2 separate regions of the Homo sapiens genome follow, and region 2 is linked to region 1. Evidence: fine-mapped expression QTL. A gene starts in region 1. The other region holds a variant in brackets. All regions are shown on one strand. Distances are between the middles of the regions.

Region 1 (9,481 bases):
TCATATATGCATTATAAAAGGCTATGGAAACAAAAGAGAAGGATGATGAGACAGAGAATTACAGCAGTAGAAAGGAAAACAGAAACCAGGGCACACAGTTCCAACACCAGAACAGAGAATTTGGGAAGATAATTGCTCTGAAACAGAACTGGCCTCCCTGTGTCTATTAGAAAACATTTCCAAAGCTCACGGAGGGAGGCCAACTTCCCCTATGGGAAACCCATTCACTCGCCAAAGGGCAGAAGGCATCATAAATCACCCATTGATACATTGGTGGGGGGCTCCCTGTCCCCCTGGTGACCACTCCAAGGTGATTTGATCTGTGCTTCCTCTGTTGGGTCAGAGACGAAACGGGCTATTATTAGGTCAAACATTACAGAAATCAACTGAGACTCTTAACTAGTAGTTGATACACCACAGGGCTTTACTTTACTGCACAATTACTAACAGTTGATTGCACCCTTAAGTATTGATTATGCAAAAAACAAAATCATCTCGCATCAGTTTTAAAGCATGACAGGGTTTGAACAGTGATCTTGAACCTAAGTATTGTTATCATGAGAAGGTTACAGTATTTGGCATCTGCAATGTCACAAAATAAATATATTATTCTCTCAATAGTGTGGAACTACCAAAATGTCAAAGTGCTTAAGAAATTGTCGCATGTGAAGAAAATAAAGAAAGATGGATTTTTTTTTTAATAATTCTATACAGAATCTTCAGATGATGGGACCAGCCCATTTAGAAATCAGTGGATATGCTGTCGATATGTAAACTGAAATCTTGCAGGCTTTTCAACACTGCTTAGCTAGACTTTCTCTACTGAGTTTCTACAAAAAGACCAGCATTGGAGGGGTACCAAATACACCGACAAAAGAGAAAAAGCAGATGGGCTGCTAGGTTTCTGCTTTTAAAAAATTTCATATAAGAATTGGGTTTCAAGCAGGAAGCCAGAACTTCTGCCTCTGGTTCTTAAATTAACATTCGGTGTGTAATGGACAATAGGCAGGGACTCATAATTTGACTAACTCACATGCTCAAGCATGATCGTGTCCAATTTCTACAGGCCTCCTTTGTAAAGAAATGTGTAACAATGGGGGGAAAGTCATAATTCTACCTGAAAACATGGATTGTAAGAGGAAATAAAAAAATCAAACAGTATGTTTTAAGTTTCCCTTTTGATACTGTGTTTCAGGGTAAGTGACAGCTTCTGCAAACCAAGACTCAGTCCTGATTATAAAGGATTTTTAAAATTACATTATTAAAAATATGTATTTATTCTTCTTTCACTTTATCTATTTTCCAAAGCCTCTTTCAAGTAAACTGTGAAGTGCCTGAGTACCAGTGACCATGACGTCACACTTTCTTTTATCTCAAGCACTCATTGTTGTTTGCATTTGCCCAAAGTGCTGGCTGGCTCCGAAGGCCAGTTCCCACAAGAATGAATTCGGAAAGACTTCATCCTTGTGTTTTTCCTTCTCTTTTAATTCCATGCAACGAGGTCAGCTTTTGCAACAAGGTGGGGTTTTATTTTTTTGGTGCATGACATCAAATACTCTAACGAGACATTTTTAATGAAAGACTTAAACCAGATAGGCCACAATGAACCAAATTAGAAATCTGAACATGTCACCACTTGCAGCATAAAGGAATATAAAAGGGCAGAGCAAAGTCTTTTTTCCTAAGGTGAATATTTCTAAGGTAAGTATTCATTTGTAAAAGTTTTTTTTTTTCATCATGTCTGAAAACCCATTATCACGCGGTTAGTATTACAAGAGACATCCCTTGGTTAAAAAAAAAAATACCATCTTGCAATTCAGCACACACCTGCAGCTGGTGTGCTCATCCAAACCAATCAGTAGGCTAAGAGAATTTAAAATTCCATACATATGAGTCTAGGTATTAATGCCGATTACACAGTACACAGTACAGAGGGAGGTCCCTATATCCACACACACACACACCCCATCCAGCATTTACACCAAAAGCCTTACCCTTTAAACACCTTTAACTATCCTGCAAACAGTAAATGCATCATTGGCCACCACCTCCAATAGTTCGTCTTTTTTTTTTTTTATTTTTTTTATTTTTATTGGTCTCTTTGTGTGATAATGACCTACACATGGACAGGGTCCAAACCATCTGGAAGATGTCTGATTCCAGGCTGAAAAGCAGTTCTCAACAAAACTGGTCTTCTGCAGCCACCACAAAGCACCAGGAAAAGGGCACCTCCGCGGCCATCCCCAGCCAGGCCAGCACAGCGCTCCGTGCCCGCTGAACCGTCCCAGGCAGTCCTCTGATGACCCAAACCACCACCACCTTTGGGCCCAGAGCAGGACAAATGAAATTTCAACAGGGGCCTGCCCTGTGACCGAAAATTACTCAGCTTCACAGCCCCTGAATGCAAGGAGAGGTGGTCCCCCCAGAACCAACATGCCCCCCAAGGTGGGTACGCCCACGGTTCTGGGAAATGCATACCTCAGGTAATTCACAGGTGCGATCCCCCAGTGGAGGCGGGGCAGCCTGAACTTCTGGCCCTGCAGGAGTGGGAAGAAATCGCTTTTGTCTTTCCGACAACTGAGCCTTCCACCTGGGGCTGGGAGGGCGGACAGCAGGACCGGCTCTTCCACTCCCCACCGCGGCCCCCCGACCTGGTCAGTAGCTCTGGCGTTCAGACAAAAGGTCCCCTGAGCTGGGGGTGGGGGGCAGGTCGAGAGTAGGCCGGTAAATCAGACTTCGCAGCTCCTTAAGTCACCAGTCCTGCATTTGGGTGCAGAGATTCCGTTTTAAAAATTCGAAGCATCGCTTTGGTTCGCTCTTTGTTCGCGGGCGCGGGTTCTCGCTCATCCATCCATCCATCCATCCAACCATCCATCCATCCATTCATTCTTTCTTGACGCACTCGCTCGCTCCCCGGTCGCTCCGGGCGCATTACCGCTTCTTCTTCTGCTTGAGGGACTTCCTGCGTTTCAGGATCATCTCATAGAGCTTGTCCATGCCCTCGGTGAGGCCCTCGCCGATGATGGCGCACGCCGGCTGGACGTGATAGGTGGTGGCCGGGATAAGCTCGTGCAGCGCCAGCTGCTTCTCAATCTCTGCCACCGGCAGCGACTTGGGCAGGTCCTGCTTGTTGGCGATGACCAGCAGCGGCGTGCCCTGGTTCTCGGCGAACTTGGTCACCTTGTGCAGCTCCGTCTTGGCCTCCTCCAGCCGGTCCACGTCCACCGAGTCCACCACGTAGATGATGCCGTCCGTGCAGCGGCTGTAGGACTTCCACAGCGGCCGCAGCTTCTCCTGGCCGCCCACGTCCCAGAAGTGGCAGCTGATGCCCTTGGCCGTGCCGTTGCTCAGCTTGATCTTCTCGGTGTTGAAGCCGATGGTGGGCACCGTGTTCACGAACTCGTTGAACTTGAGCCGGTAGAGCACCGTGGTCTTGCCGGCCGAGTCCAAGCCCAACATGACGATATGCAGGGACTGGAAGGCCGAGATGTTAGAGGAGATGTTGCCCATGGCTCCTGGCTGCGGCGCCAGCCACTGCGGCTGCGGCGGGAGGGCGCCGCCCCCCGAGCAGTCACGGGCCCGACGCGGCCGGGCGCACCTGGGCCCCGCCCGCCGCCGCCCGCACCGGCCCCGGGGCTCGGCGTCCCCGCGGGCGCACGGCTTGGCGCGCTCAGACGCCGCAGTCCCCGCGCCCTCGCCGGCCGGGCTCGCGATCGGCGGGCATCGCGTCTCTACGCGCGGCTTTGTCTCCCGCGAAGCCGCCTCAGATGTTCGGCGCCCTCCCCAGGCCTGGGCTCGCTCTGTGGTTTCCTCGGGCCGCGCCCCCGCGCTCCGGCAGCTGCCCGGGCTCTCCGCTCTCCCGGCGCCCGGCGCTCGCCTCTGGCCTGGGACGGCGCTGCTCCTGCTCCTGCTCCCGCTCCCGCTCCCGGAGCGCGGGCTTCCCCGGGAGTCGCTGTCCGCTCGGCAGCCTCACAGTCCCCGCGCCGCCGCAGCAGCCGCCAGCCTGCAGCGGCCGGAGAGCTCCCGGACCCGCCCCCTCGCGCCCCGCCCCGGACCCGCCCCCGGACCCGCCCCGGGCCCCGCCCCGCCCGCCGCCGGGGGTCAGGCGCGGTCCTCCCCGCCCAGCCGGCCGTTTTCGCGCGCTTCGCTGCGTCCCCGCCGCCCCCCGCCGCCCCCCGGCCCCTCCCGCGCCGCGCCGCGCAGACACAATGGGCGCGGAGCCGGCTCTTCCTCCCCAGCGGCTGACGCGTTTGCAAAAATAGCTCTCGGCTCCCGGAATCCCCGCCCGGGTCCTAGCCCGCCCCCTGCCCCTCCGGGCCGCAGCCGTGGGCGACGCAGCCTGCCTGAGGGAGTGGGTCCCGGGGTCCCAGCTCTGTGGGCGCGAGGCGGGGCAGGGCGGCCCCCAGGGTGACTGGGAGAGCGCCGCTCTGGGGAGTGAGGGCGGCGAGGCTGGGGCCTCCAAACCCCAGAAGGGACGGGACGGGGCTGGCCTCGGTGAGCTGCCAGCCTGCGCTCTGGATCCAGCCGGGCGCGTCCCCTCCCACCCTCGCGCCGCGGCTGTCGCCGGCCCCGGCCCCCAGTGACGCCCAGGCTCGCCTCCTGCCTGGGTTCCAGGGGGCTGCACCCGGCCAGCGCCGCCCTCCGGAGCCCAGGCCTGTGCCCAGGGCACCCTGGAGGCCCAGCCTTTCTTGCCCGGTGGCGGCGGTTGGGGCAGGGTCGGACCTAGGCCGCGATGGGGGATTAGAAGACCTACCTGCCCCAAGTAGCTCGGACAGCTCACCCTCCCAGACACGCCTGGGCTACCTCATTTCGTCCGCATCGACTCTGCTGACATCCCAGGGGAAGCGTCAGCATTTCGGGAGAGCACCCCTTGCCACCCGACTTTGGGAACTGAGAACCACCTGCCCGCAGGTGAACTACTCCGCAGAAATGGCAACACCAGCCCCGGGGGCTGAAAGAAAATGTGTCTACAGCTTGGAGCTGGTGGCGCAGTGGGTTACAAACACTGATATTCCACGGGTTCCACCTCCTGTCACCTCAGTTCAATGGTTTTATTCTGGTTTGTAAACATGTAACAAATGTATATCCTCTCTGGGTGCGGAGAAAAGTGAGAGTATATTATGGCAAACACACAGATCTGGGGAGAGCTGCTCCGCAGGAGACAGCAGGCCGCAGCATGGGCGACCGCATCTTCCCAGCTCTAGCTTATGAGACAGAAACGACGGAAACGGGGTCAAGGGAGAAGAAAATGAAAATGCTAAGAATTTATGAATAAAAGCTAGAATTTTAGAGAAATACTTTATCACCTTCTGTTCACAAACCACGAAAAGACATATGATATCGTTGGTACCAAAGCATGTGAGAAGACCTCACCTGTAGAAGGAAGGACAAGCCACCACCACCCCTATCCTTGGAATTCCCAAGGTGGCAGCCGGAGCGACCATCCACTCTACTGAGTGGATTTGGGGCTGGAAACGAAGTATCAGGCTGGAAAGGACCCTGCCTATCATTCCACCCAACGTTGTCCAGTGAGGTAACAAGGCCTAGGCGCCCGTGACGGCTAAGGCAGAACCTAGAGGCCCACTGCCTGCTCCAGGACCAAGGGTCTGTATGCACAAAACTGGGCACCTGCCTGCCCTCTTCCTCACATCCCACTCTACCCACACGCTATTTCCTTCAATGAGGAATAAAGTGAGCCACCCGAAGGATAGAGTTCAACAGAAAATATTGGCTGCACTGTGCCACTTACTTCATTTTAAATAAAAATGGAAATGTATTCACTGACATCACTGAAAAGTTAAGGATAAAGGTCCTCTTCAGGCATGGCTAGACCCAGGAGCTCAAAAGGAGTCTTTCGAGCAGGTGTCTCTCCAGTCCTCCTCCGTGTTCCCCTGTGTTGATTCTTTTTCCTTCTGGCAGCCTTGGACTCACATCCTTGGTTTAGATCCTGGAAAGGAAAAGGTACAACTCTTTCCCAGTAACTCTAACCAAAGCCTGGAGCACGCACCCTGGATCAAGGACTGCAGTCCAGGAGGAGGGAACACACCAGTGGATGTGGCCCAGGGGTTGAAATCGGGAAGGGTGGTTCTCCAAGAAGAATCCAGGATCTGTCACCAAAAGAGCAACTCTAGTGAGGCAACAGAAACAACATATGTTGGCATAATTCATAATGATGATGTTTCCGTTATTGGGAACCCTGGGGAGACAGGATTTTGTGTTTTTGGAGTGATTTTCTTGACTCTCTTTAATGCCTGCCCCATAGATAGCCAGCTTCTCATGAGACTGTTTCTTGTTTCTCTTTCTTCTCTGCCACAGGCAGGGCCGAGGCTGAGCCCCAACCCAAGATGAGCCTTTGGTTTAGTAGCCTGGGACCTGGACATTTGGAAAGAGACAGATCAGACTGGAAGCCTCTCCATCCGGCTTCCACAGATTACCTTTGTGTTACTTCCTTTTCCCCTAGTCAAGACTTGCTTTAAGTTTTAAGGTGGTAGGAAGGAGATATTTTAGTAAAGTATCCGATGTATCTTTTTGGTGCTATGCTAATTATTACCAAGAGCCTCAGTGGTTTTGACTGCAGCCTCCACATTTTGCACCACCATGATGGGGTTTAGCAATAAAGGGCTGTCTGCTGTCCAGTAGGAAAAAACAGATTAATAGACATTAATAGAGCCTTCCAGAACACAGCCATTAAACAGCAACTCACCATAATTGAATAGCAACCACTCTACCTGCTAATTTCACTCACCAGGTGATAAGTTAATTTTACAGTTGATAATTTAACTTCTAACACATAAAAATATCATTTGGTTGAGTCGACTGGTAACTTTCCTTCAAATGTGGATTTTTATTGAAAAACACTGGAATTATGAAAAGGAAGGTAATGTTTACCACTCATATCAGACATGTAAGGCCTACTTTGAGCCTATTTCTTCATGGACATACATCATGGCTAAATTCCACTGAGTGGAAAATATTGGCTGCACTGTGGCACTTACTTCATTTTAATTAATCAGAAGGAGAGATTTTTTCAAAGAATAGCATGTACTTGTGTCTGCCTGAGATGAATTCCTCTTCCAGCAGCAGTGACATTTCAGGTCCTCTCCTTTCTATTCTTCATCAAGATGACTGCATCCAGAGAAGAACTCAATTATTTCAAGCAAACAGAAGGCAATAACTTGGCAGTAATTTTGAAATTGCATCCTAAAATATTCTCTTTTTTTTCCCTTTAAGGGCTTTGAAATAAAATGTGCCACCAATTAAAATGACTTTTGAGTGAATCCGATGAGCAATATATCATGGCATTATTATCTTTGCTTGAGTAAGGCTAATAACCTAAAATGCAAAAGGGAGCATCCCATTTATTCTTGAATATGATGAGTAAATAAAGACCAGAACATGGGCACACGTGTACACACATACACACACGCGCGTGCGCGCATAAGTGTGGGGTTATTTGCATGTTCTCACTGCAGACCTGCTGTGGAACTCTGGGTTCAGGTTCACTGCCCCGGTGCTTAACTGTTATAATACAGGAGTGCCCTCTGCTGAGCTTCTCGGATAATAGATGAAGGGCTCTACAGAGGCACATTGGCCTAGTGCTTAGCAAATGTTCAGTCCATAGTTATGGAATGAATGATGGATAAGTGACCCCCTGCTTTTCTTCTCTCTATGGAGATGCAGGAATAGAGCCCTACTGGTTAAACTGAGAAAGTGCCAGGGGCCCATGGGTGCTTTGCTTGGGGCTCAGAGCTCAGAGCCATTGATGCCAGTGTGGGTCTTGTCTGTGAGACCTGTGGGTTATCTGCTGGGAGAGGGGAGCCAGGAACCTGGCAGAGCAGGAAGTCGCTTTACTAGGAGAACTGTTCAAAGAATCACAATTGGTGGAAGAGATCAGAAAAGAGCATCCAGGAAACCCAGCTGAGACCAGAGAAGGGAAGAAAACTGATTTTTGCATCTAATTCGCAGGCAGGCATGAGCAGCTGTAAATGGAGAATGGGGCTGGGAGTCGAGAATGAAGGAGGCCAGTTGGCAGACAAAGTGACAAGGCCTGAAGCTCCTGAAGCCAGGTGGTCCAGGATTGAAGCCTTTTATCTGTCAGGAGAGGTTCCTTAAGGAAGAACCAAACCAATACTTCCAGAAGCCCCAGGGCATGCTAGACAAACCAGTCACCATCACTGCAGTGCAACCCCCTCAACTCCAGGAGAAACGCCGACTCAGGCTACGTAACAGTGGAAGCCACTAAGACACTGGTGCCAAGGGAAGTTTTGTGGATGGGACGGTAGATCTGGGGGGAGATAAATGAAAATCTGTGATGCCTGCAAGCTCCTGCTTCATTCAAGTGGTCCAAAGCCTGAAAATAAAAAAGATCCACTACTCTATTGGCCATTCAAGTTTATAATTCTAAGGAAAAAAAAATCAGGGTGCCTTATTTTTTATTTTGCTAAGCAACAGGGCTGAAACAATTCAGGTTTTTATTTTCCCAATGATCACCACTGCTAGTGTTTTGTATGGTTGTTGTTGTTGCTGTTTTCTCCAAGAAAAAAAATTTAAATCAAAAAGCTAAAAGGCTCCCCCGCTTCAAGTCTTCCTTAATAATTGTCGATCTCTATTACATTCCTGAGATAGATATAAAATTTTAGAAGCCATTATCTGGGCTGGGCATGGTGGCTCACATCTGTAATCTCAGCACTTTGGAAGGCTAAGGTGGGAGGGTCATCTGAGGTCAGGAGTTTGAGACCAGCCTGACCAACATGGTGAAACCCCATCTGTACTAAAAATATAAAAATTAGCCGAGTATGGTGACAGGCATCTGTCATCCTAGCTATTCTTGAGGCTGAGGCAGGAGAATGGCTTGAACCTGGGAGGCAGAGGTTGCAGTGAGCCAAGATCGCGCCACTGCACTCCAGCCTGGGCAACAAAAGCGAAACTCCATCTCAAAAAATAATAATAATAAATAGAAGCCATTATCTTTCCTATCAGTAATATTTTCAAATATAATTCTTATATAACACTATTTTACATCTCTCCCTAATATTTACATGGCATGTATTAAATGAACCTTTGTCAAGGATGTTAAGACTCAAAGCTTTGGAAGTCAGCACTCAGGCATACCAAAGTGACAGAAAAGTTCTTAGTGCCAGCTTCCAGTTCAGGGGGAAGAAAAGGCTTAGTATGCAAAAGGTATTTCTGAATCCTTTAATAATTCAATCACAGTAATTAAATTTCTACTCTAATAGCTACAGTGAAGGAAAAAAAAAACAAGTTAACAATAAATATCAGGTGATTAGAGAGCTGCACCATGAACCAAGAAGTATTTGATGGAAACTTGGATTACTTTCATTCCTCTTCTCCCACCTCTGCAGGTGAACTGAAATGCTATTATTTTCATTTAATTAAGCTTACTTGGCTGGACCCCAGAGAGATGAAAACAATCACGCTTTTGTGCCCCTGTCAAACCCTATTGGCTTTCTACAGTGCAGCA
Region 2 (9,481 bases), 71 kb before region 1:
AGATACAAGCATGCCAACAGCTTGCATTAGTATTTGTGGAATGGATGAGTGAGTCATGATATATTTCCCCAAGCTTCAGCTGGGTGTGTTTTTCATGTAACCATTACTCATAAAGTGTAAAGGTCAATTATGTTAGGAAGGAAGGAATGATTTTTGTCATCCATGCATAGGACACTCAGGTATGCTTCCCTGAGCTTCATGGAGCATGGTTCCCTGAGCTCACTCCTGCAAAGGCCACGCCTATTCATGAATGTTGACATTAACCAGAAGGTAGGGACTGTATATGTGAATTGAGCTTAAATCTGAGCTGAGGAATTCTATGACAAGTAACTTCAAACACGTCACTGAGTTTGAGTTTACCATAATGCATAAGACTATTTCTAAAACTTGTAATTGCTTCTGTTTATTTACAGAGTTTGATGCATATTTGAGCATTTATTTACTTATTCAAAATTCAAAAAGTTCCAAGAAGTATAAAAATGGCTGAACAGTGGCAAGAATTTTAGAAACCATAGAAAAAAACCCGACATTATTAGGGAACAAAACAAATAGACTAGGAGATAAAAATGAAGTTTTGTGTTGCAGAAGCTGGCAGGGATCCCCAGTGAGAGAAAAGAGGTATCAGGATGAGGAGAATGATAACCACAGCCTCATCACATAGGAGAGCGGCTGCTTCCGTCAACAGGGTGTGTGCTCACAGCTTCAGGTCTGCACCGCACAGCATGATGCTGAGACAGGAGGTCAGCACGTCACATAATTACAACTATATTCTTGTAGATGGCAGGATAATGGCATCCCCCCACCCTGCCCCCAAAAGATGTCCATGTCCTAATTTCAGGAACCTATGAATGTGTTATATGACATGGTAAAGAATTAAGTTTGTAGCTGGAATTAGGGTTGTCAATCAGTTGACCTTAAAATAGGGAAATCACCTGGGTTATGCAGGTGTACCATCACTAGGGCCCTTAAATGCGGAAGGAGGCAGAAGAGACAGGTGGGCGGGCGCGGTGACTCACACCTGTAATCCCAGCACTTTGGGAGGCTGAGGTGGAGGATTGTTTGAGTCCAGCAGTTTGAGACCAGCCTGGGCAAGATAGTAAGACTTTGACTCTACAAAAATAAAAAACTAACCAGGCATGGTGGTGCATGTCTGGGGTCCCAGCTACTCAGAAGGCCGAAGTAGGAGGATCACTTGGGCCCAGGGGGGTTGAGGTTGCAGTGAGCCATGCCACAATTTTGTCTGCACTGCAGCCTGTAGTGCAGAGCGAGACCCTGTCCCCATCCCCCACCAAAAAATAATAATAATAATAGACAGGTCGATGAGATGTGACAAAATATCAACCCTCTGTTAAGGCCACCAAAAATAAAAAATATTAAAAGGACACACAGCCCTGCCAACACCTTGATTTTAGCTCATGCCAGACTTCTGACCTTCAGAACTCTAAGATAATAAATTTGGTTTGTTTTAAGCACCACATTTGTGGTAATTTGCTACAGCAGCAATAGAAAACTGATACAATTATATTAATAATTTTAAAGACGGCATATTTTGCCAGGTAGAGTGAATCATCATTTTGAATGACTTTGAATCCAGAAGAAAATTTATGTAAGGAAAGGGCTTAATTGAAAACTAAAACATGAAAGTTCTTGGTGGCTGTGAAGGTTTTTCCTAGGACTGGAAATCCCCTGGGCTCCCCTCACACTTTGAAGTCAACCTAATTGGAGGGCCATGCCTCGATCCTTTCGGGAGATAGGTGTCCCTGTTAGAGTCTTCAGGTGTATGTTATACTTCAGGTGTCTGCAATTACCTTACCCAGGCCTATAAGCTCCTTGAGAACAGGGAACGTATTTGTCTAATTTTCAGGACCAAATGCAACATCCAGCCTCTAATTGGGGCTTAATAGGTATTTGTTGAATAAATATTTCCAGTGTCATTGATGCAATATTCTGACAAGTAGAAAGATCAAAGCTGGGAAGACGGGGGCTGGGGTGGAAGGAAAATAAATGACGTTTTGATTTTTTAAAGGAACAAAACTTTAGATAAGGCCAGTTTCAAATCATCTTGGCTTTGTTGTGTTTTCATCTCTCCAGAATTGGACTTCTGTGCTCAATTCAATGAAAACACTCAGAGCACAGATTGGGATCACGGACTTATTTTCAAAGCATGTTCCCACACATATTAACAATTGCTCAAAATTAACTGTAGCATCTGTTTAAAGTTGAATCAAATTGAATTCTCTATTTATAAAAATGGAGTTTACATAAGAGAATGGAAACCATGTACAGACATTTAGCATGACACTTCTGCTTACACCATTTCAACAAATAAAAAGAAATTATTGTTCTGGGAGAAATACACATTCCAAATCTTTGTAAAATGAAACCCTTCAAAATTAGGAAATGGAACAACTCTTTTTTTTTTTTTTTTTGAGACAGTCTTGCTTAGTCATGTTGCTCAGTGCAATGGCGCGATCTCGGCTCACTGCAACCTCTGCCTCCCGGGTTCAAGCGATTCTCCTGCCTCAGCCTCCTGAGTAGCTGGGATTACAGGCACCTGCCATCATGCCCAGCTAATTTTTGTATTTTTGTAGAGATGGGTTTCACCATGTTGGCCAGGCTCATCTTGACCTCAGGTGATCTGCCTGCCTCGGCTTCCCAAAGTGCTGGGATGACAGGCGTGAACCACCGCACCCCACCAGAAATGGAACAACTCTTAATGAGTGACATGAGCTACCAGATAAAGGAACACTATATAAATTTCAGGGTCCAGGGTCCTAGAAGTGCCTGGAGCTGAGCCCCTGCTCCCCAAGTCTGTACACATGCACCCTGGGTGCTCAAGCCACAGGCCCTGTTGTAATGGGAAGAGAGAATTCCCTCTTGCAGGAAAGCGGGCTACAAAGATGAAGGGTGGTGGGTGGCAAGAGAGGCCCGGACACACCCTGGGCCCAAGCCTCACTGGTAATGGTTGGAGGGTGGTGGGAAAAGCCATAGGAGATTCTGGGGGAGGTCACAGGGATGGGGGTGAGAGCGAGCTAAGTGGTAGCCAGTGGCGGGGCCCCTGGTGGTTGGGTTTTATTGGGAATGAGGCCGGGCAGGGAGTGACTATAAGACCCAGCTGGTCGTGGCAGAGGTGGGAAGGGAATTTAGGGAACTTGCTCTCTTGGCTTCATGTCTGGGGACACAGCACGGGTGAGGCTGGTGGGTGGGTTGACCTGCTGGTGGTCCCTTCAGACCCCTGTCCCAGTTAGTCCCTGGGGACCCGTCCCTTTGGACCTGACTCCTTGGGGTTGAGTTTCCCCTTTCACCTGGCCAGGATTTAGCATCTTCTTCTGGAGGAATGAGGAGGTTTGGGTGACCTGCCTCTTCCTCTTTCACCTGGCCAGGCTTTAGCATCTTCATCTGGAGGAACAAGGAGGTTTGGGTGACCTGCCTAGTGCCAGGGCAGGACGACTGCCACCCTGAGTCATGTTCTGCTGGTGTCTTTCAATTAGGCAGGAAAGCTCACTTCACAAGGAGCTTCTGTGTCACTGGAGTTATATGGAAATGAGGACATCAACGCAGCCCTCAGGGGCATGCGGGAAGAAGCAGAGGATGGGCCAGAGAGGGTCCTCCCTACCCTCCTCCCAGGTTTGGCCCTCTAGGCCACTCTACCCACTGCATACAGGGATGGGTGTGGTGCCCAGTTCCTCACCCTCTGGGACATAGAACTCCACCTACCCACAAAACCCACTTCCTCAGAAGCGTTAGGGCTGCCT[C/T]GGTGCCCTAACTGCAGGTGTGCAGGGCGGGGCTGAGGAAGAGGCAGTTAGGGCTGAACCCAGCAGGAGGGAAGCAAGCTCGCCCAGCTCTAGGTTTCTTGTGAACCCTCAGGACCTGCCTTTGGAGGCAGGTCCTGAGACTGCTGGAAGAAATGAAAATGATGACGATTACAAAGATGAAGGGAGAGAGTGTTAATGAATCACAGATCTTCCTTCCCCTATCAGGTCACCTTGTGTCAGTTTAACAATGACCACCCCCCCCCCAAAAAAAAAAAGCCACACACACACACACTGAGAAGGGAAACACTTTGTTTTTCTGCACTGTCTGAGCTCCATCAGATAATGGAACTGCTGAGCTCTCTGTTCTGCCACTCCACATTGATGGATTTCATGGCAGAGTAACACTTTGGAAATGAAAGTTTCTCTTCTACTTCCTAAGTGAGGGAGACCCAGAATCCAAGAAAGGATCCTTGGCTCAGGAAATCATCTGCCATCGGTGGCCAGGGGCAGCTGGAGCGTCAACATCTAACCTGTGGGAAGATGTACCCTCTGCAATAGGCCCCTCTGCCCCATCCCCAGAAGTCCCCAAAAGTTTCCAGGAGTGTCAACAGATGGGGGAGGGATCAGCCACTCTCACCCTCTGAACTGTGAGGGTTTCTCTTCCCATTTCTCTAGGAAGCAGTGGCCATGTTGTTGCCCAAAGCAGATGTCAAAAGAGAAACTTAGAAGAGGCTTCTGAGACTAGCAACCCTCCCACTCAGGATGGAACCAAATTCAGGGAGCACGTCTCCCCACACAGCTGAAATTAATGCAGAGGTGAACGCCTTCTCCCTCGGAAGCAGAGCAAGAATGATTCTTGATTACACTGAGCCTATGGAACAGCCCCCACTGTTCAAGAGCCAAGATTAGTGTGAAGCACCTCTCAATCATTTAAGATTTGATTGTTTAACATGAGGCTGGGTGGGTTCGTCTCAGTGCTGATGTCAACAATCGACCCCATCGTCCACATGGCTCCCTGGGTTGCACCATGAGCCAGCCACTGCTGCTTCTGGGTGCCAGGCTGTCCGGCAAATCCTCTGACCCCCGTCTCTCCCTTCTAGATTTTTCTGAGCTGCCACTTCCTCTCACCCTCCAGGCAGGCAGAGCCTGAAACCCCCTCTCTCAGAAAGGGTTGCATCAAACTCATTTGATGCACACAAATTCACCGAGGGAGAATCCTTTGACAAGCAGGCTCTGGGGCCCTGGGGCTGGGGCTTGAGAGCCTGGGTCTCTAACACACCCAGCAGTTGCTGATGGCGGGGCCAGAGCTGGAGTGGCCAAGGTTTTAGAGCAGTACTTATGGTGGGTCTCTCTCTAGCTGGGCCATCCTTGAGGCCATCCTCTTCATTTCAGATCAGTTTGCCCCCTCCCCATTTCTCAAAGCTGCTTACTGTTTGCTGGAAGGGAAGGCTGGACTCCTCCACCCCACCTTCCACCCCCACCTTCCTTTCCCCTCCGCCCCACACCCGTTTCTCTGCTCCCTAGTCTGTTTCCTGTACAACTTTAGGACATGGCCTTCATTCATGTTACCTTTCTGTTGTTGTTTTTTTATGAGCTTTAGTTAAGATAACTAATTGCTGCAGACAAAACCAGCTCAAAACAATTTAATCCACACTTTGAGAGAGGGAGAAAGAAATGCACTCTGCAGAGGAATCTGAAGAATGTAGAGAACCATCCAATCAACGACTATTCCAAGCATTTCCCTGAGAATGCAAACTTCCACCCACCTCAAGCCCTCCAGGAACTTGCCATTTTCACCACATCACTATGCAGCGTCACACCAGGAAGTACCCAGAAAACTTCGCACGATCCTCCGGAAGCCTCACCCCTTATCGGTGACCACCCTTCTGCTATATCCAGTCTTTTTCTCAGCATAAGTGTTTTACATACTTGATATCAGAGTGTAATTTAAAATCTATTTCTTGACTTTTTTACTTAATAAGTTTTTAACTGTCACTAAAAATTCCTGAAAAAATGTTGTATAACTCTTTCCGTTATTTACTTAATCATTTCCCTATTGTTGGAGACATAGAATCCAATTTAGGATTTGTTTTGTGGAAGGTTTCTTTGTTGCTGTTTTTTGAGACGGAGTCTCGCTCCGTCACCCAAGCTGGAGTGCAGTGGCGCAATCTCGGCTCACTGCAATCTCTGCCTCCCGGGTTCAAGCGATTCTCCTGCCTCAGCCTCCCAAGTAGCTGGGATTACAGGCGCCCACCACCACTCCCGGCTAATTTTTGTAATTTTAGTACAAACAGGGTTTCGCCATGTTGGCCAGGCTGGTCTTGAACTCCTGAACTCAGGTGATCCGCCCGCCTTGGCCTCCTAAAGTGCTGGGATTACAGGCGTGAGCACCGTGCCTGACCTGTTTTGTGGAACTTTTGAAAGCACAGAGAGGCATGCTCACATCTCATGGACACCACCCGAGTTAGATTAACTTCCTTTCAAACTGGAAGTAGAAGGAGACCATGTTTTCATTTGCCCACTCACTCACTCAGCAAATTTCACAGCATATTCCCCGTGTGCCAGGTATTCAGGGAAAGCCCGTTGTCCGTCTGAAGTCTATTAAGAGGTTAAATAGTCATCAGTCCACTTCAAGCTGGTCGATCGCCTTTGAGCATGGGAGGTAAGAGCTAACTTTGCAGTAAACCGCTCAACACAGAAACCAGCAAGGGCTTCCACATGCAGCCCCGTTCCTGGAGCAACAAATCACAACATCCGTCACTGTAGACTCTGGCCTGACACAGATGGTCCCCACATTCTTGAAGGCAAGGACTAAGAAAGAGTGGGTCAGGGTCCGTTTGGAAATTATTTTCAGGAAGCTGGCCCTCTGAGGCCAAATGGTGGGAGGTGGAGGGGACTAGACTTGGGCGGGAAGAAACATCCTCATCCATCCTCATCCTTATGGAAACCTGTGTCCCAGTTCCCTGTCTGCATCTTCAGGTGCCTCTGGTACAAGTCTATGTGGATGCCTGCCTCAAACTCATCACACAGAAATGCAGCACTCTCGCCCGCTGCACTGTGGCCCCTTCCAAATGTAGCCCCCTTGGAGAGACACGTATCGCCCACTAAGTGGATCCACTGCAGCCTCCACACTATCTGGGTTCCTCTCTCCCTTTCTCCTCCAAGTCAGCAGGTGACAGGCTCGCTTTGCTTGTGCCTTCCAAAGAACAGAGACTCTAGCATGTCTGCCCTTCGATGGGCCGGCTTGGCCTGGCTGTCTCCTGCTTCCTCAATGGTTTCCTGGGAATACCTGCTGGTAGGTGGGGGATGGCCTAATCCCTGCCAGAGACTCCTTGGCCTTTGATCCTGGTGAGCTGTGCTAGTCCACGTGCAAACACAAAGCCTCTGTTCTCTTTTGGAGGCCTTTTGCATAGTCTGACAGCTGAGCTGGAGATCCAGGCAGGCCTGCACTTAGCTGTGCTCTTGCCTCCAAGGACTGTTCCAACGTGGGGCCATGATTCAGCCTCTTTGAGCCTCAGATTCTTCTCTGTACACTGGAGATAAGGATGCCCACCTCACAGGGCTGTTTCAGCGATCAGATCTGTAAAGCACTTAGCGTTATGTGTAGGAAGAACTCAATACATAATATTAATGCTGAGTATAATTACTGTTATTCCTCAGTAGGCTTCCAGGCCTGCCTGCCCTGAGTCCTCTTGGTCTTCCCTGTTTTATCTCCCCAGCTACAGGAGAGAAGTGACTTGCTCTCCATCCCTCCGTCAATGAAGGGGCTAGGCCATGCACTGTGCTTTGGTGCCCACTGTTCTACTTGGTTTACATCAGAGAAGGAAGGATAATATTAGAAATTATATAGATAGGCCGGGCACGATGGCTCACACCTATAATCCCAGCACTTTGGGAGGCCGAGGCGGGCGGATCACCTGAGGTGAGGAGTTCGAGACTAGCCTGATCAACATGGTGAAACCCCATCTCTACAAAAAATACGAAATTAGCTGGGTGTGGTGGCACATGCCTGTAATCCCAGCTACTCAGGAGGCTGAGGCAGGAGAATTGCTGGAACCTGGGAGGTGGAGGCTGCAGTGAGCTGAGTTCATGCCATTGCACTCCAGCCTGGGCAATAGAGTGAGACACTGCCTCAAACAAACAAACAAAAAAAAAGTATATACATGTGGCATAGTAACCTCATTATGAAAACCATAATCTTGGTCATAATCATGCATGAATGTTAGAAAAATATCCAGTAAAATCCCACATTAATCTTTTTTCACTCTGACCATCAGAATTTTCTTGGAAGTTTTCATCACTATTAAGCAGACTCCAAAAATTAAAGTTAATAATGATCTGGATTAAAGATGCAAAATAATTATTGCTTGCATATATGTTGTAGGGGCCAAAGCGAAACCTTTGGCCCTCTGAAGTTTCACTGAAAAATCAACTCGCAAAAGACAGATTAAGGCCGGGCACTGTGGCTCAAACCTGTGATTCTAGCACTTTGAGAGGTTGGGGTGGGCAGATCAGTTGAGGTAAGGAATTCAAGACCAGCTTGGCCAACATGGCAAAACCCTGTCTCTACTAAAAATACAAAAATTAGCTGGACGTGGTGGTGTGTGCCTGTAATCTCAGCTACTCAGGAGGCTGAGGCATGAGAATCCCTTGAACCAGAGAGACAGATTCAGAGGTTGCAGTGAGCCGAGAGCAGGCCAGCGCACTCCAGCCTGGGCGACACAGCAAGACTCTGTCTGAAAAAAAAGGCAGATTAATAGGAGAAAAGGCATACAAAGTTATTCAACGTGTGTATACACAGGAGCCCTCAGAATAAAGAGCCCACCCCCAACAAAGTACAGAAGCTTAAATATACCATCTTGAGGTTACAGAATGAATGGAGGCTCAGAGCATGGCCAAAAAACAATTATGGTAGTCAATCATGTTCTATTGGCAAGACAGATGATGGGAGGAGGAGAAGAGGAGGACTGGCTGACAAAGGTGGTCTTGTTATGTAGATGAAACCTCACAGGTAGCAGCTCTCAGAGAGAATAGATGATGAATGTTTCTTTCAGATCTTTCACGGTGTCAGAATCTCCCAAATTAATCTCTCCTACATGAGGACTAGGGCAGGACTGGTTGCATTTCTGGGGATTCACTAAAGATCTCCAGATGCAAATTTTCCCCACAAAAGACCACTTTGTAGAGCCACTTCAGTCTGCCAGCCCTGTGGCAGCCATCTCGAAATATGTCAGAGCAATATATTTGGGGGTAAAATATTCTGATTTCCTTTAATGTGTAATAATATACCCAGAAAACTTCAGAGAATCCACTGAAAGTCTTATAGAATTAAGAAGAGGCAATCAATACAATACAAACATGGGAAACAACAGCTTTGCATCAGATCAGCATAGAACGGATGTGGGAGAGGAATACTGTTCTCAATAGCACCAATGTACAGAAGCTGAGAATAACATCAGTAAGATGCACATTGGAAAAAAGAAAAACTAGGAATTATAATGAGACATAAAGAATAAAACTTGAATAAATGGAGTAATGTATCGCATTTCTGATGATGCAACAAAATAAATTTTTCTCAAGTTACTTTATGAGTAACAAAATCCAAATAAAATCTCAAACCAACACTTCATCTTGATAAAATCATTCTATTATAAGCTTGACAAATAAATGACGGCTCAAGAAACAACAGATGCTGGTGAGGCTGTGGAGAGATAGGAACGCTTTGA

Direction of the effects. Alleles are on the strand shown, and positions count from the first base shown. SD is a standard deviation of normalised expression in the study named.
With allele C in place of T in region 2, the expression in monocytes of the gene that starts at base 4,005 in region 1 is lower (moderate effect, 0.51 SD a copy in BLUEPRINT).

What was found. PIP is the estimated chance that this variant, and not a neighbour inherited with it, causes the effect.
Region 2: its variant is fine-mapped to the expression of ARL4C in monocytes (TOPMed, PIP above 0.99). The same link has a PIP of 0.9 or more in monocytes after interferon gamma.

What each region holds. Positions count from the first base shown.
Region 1 is chr2:234,493,077-234,502,557 of GRCh38, forward strand. It overlaps ARL4C (ARF like GTPase 4C), which reads right to left and starts at 4,005. Exons shown (of 2, transcript NM_001282431.2): 1 at 2,936-4,005; 2 at 1-2,760. The coding sequence starts at 3,510. The coding sequence ends at 2,730. RefSeq lists silencers at 3,583-3,682, 3,793-4,082 and an enhancer at 4,267-5,040.
Region 2 is chr2:234,422,365-234,431,845 of GRCh38, forward strand. No RefSeq gene overlaps it. Among named protein-coding and RNA genes, the nearest start is that of LINC01891, 27 kb to the right of the region's middle. RefSeq lists enhancers at 5,093-6,292, 5,942-6,513, 8,485-9,036. The variant C/T (reference allele first, on the strand shown) is at 3,756.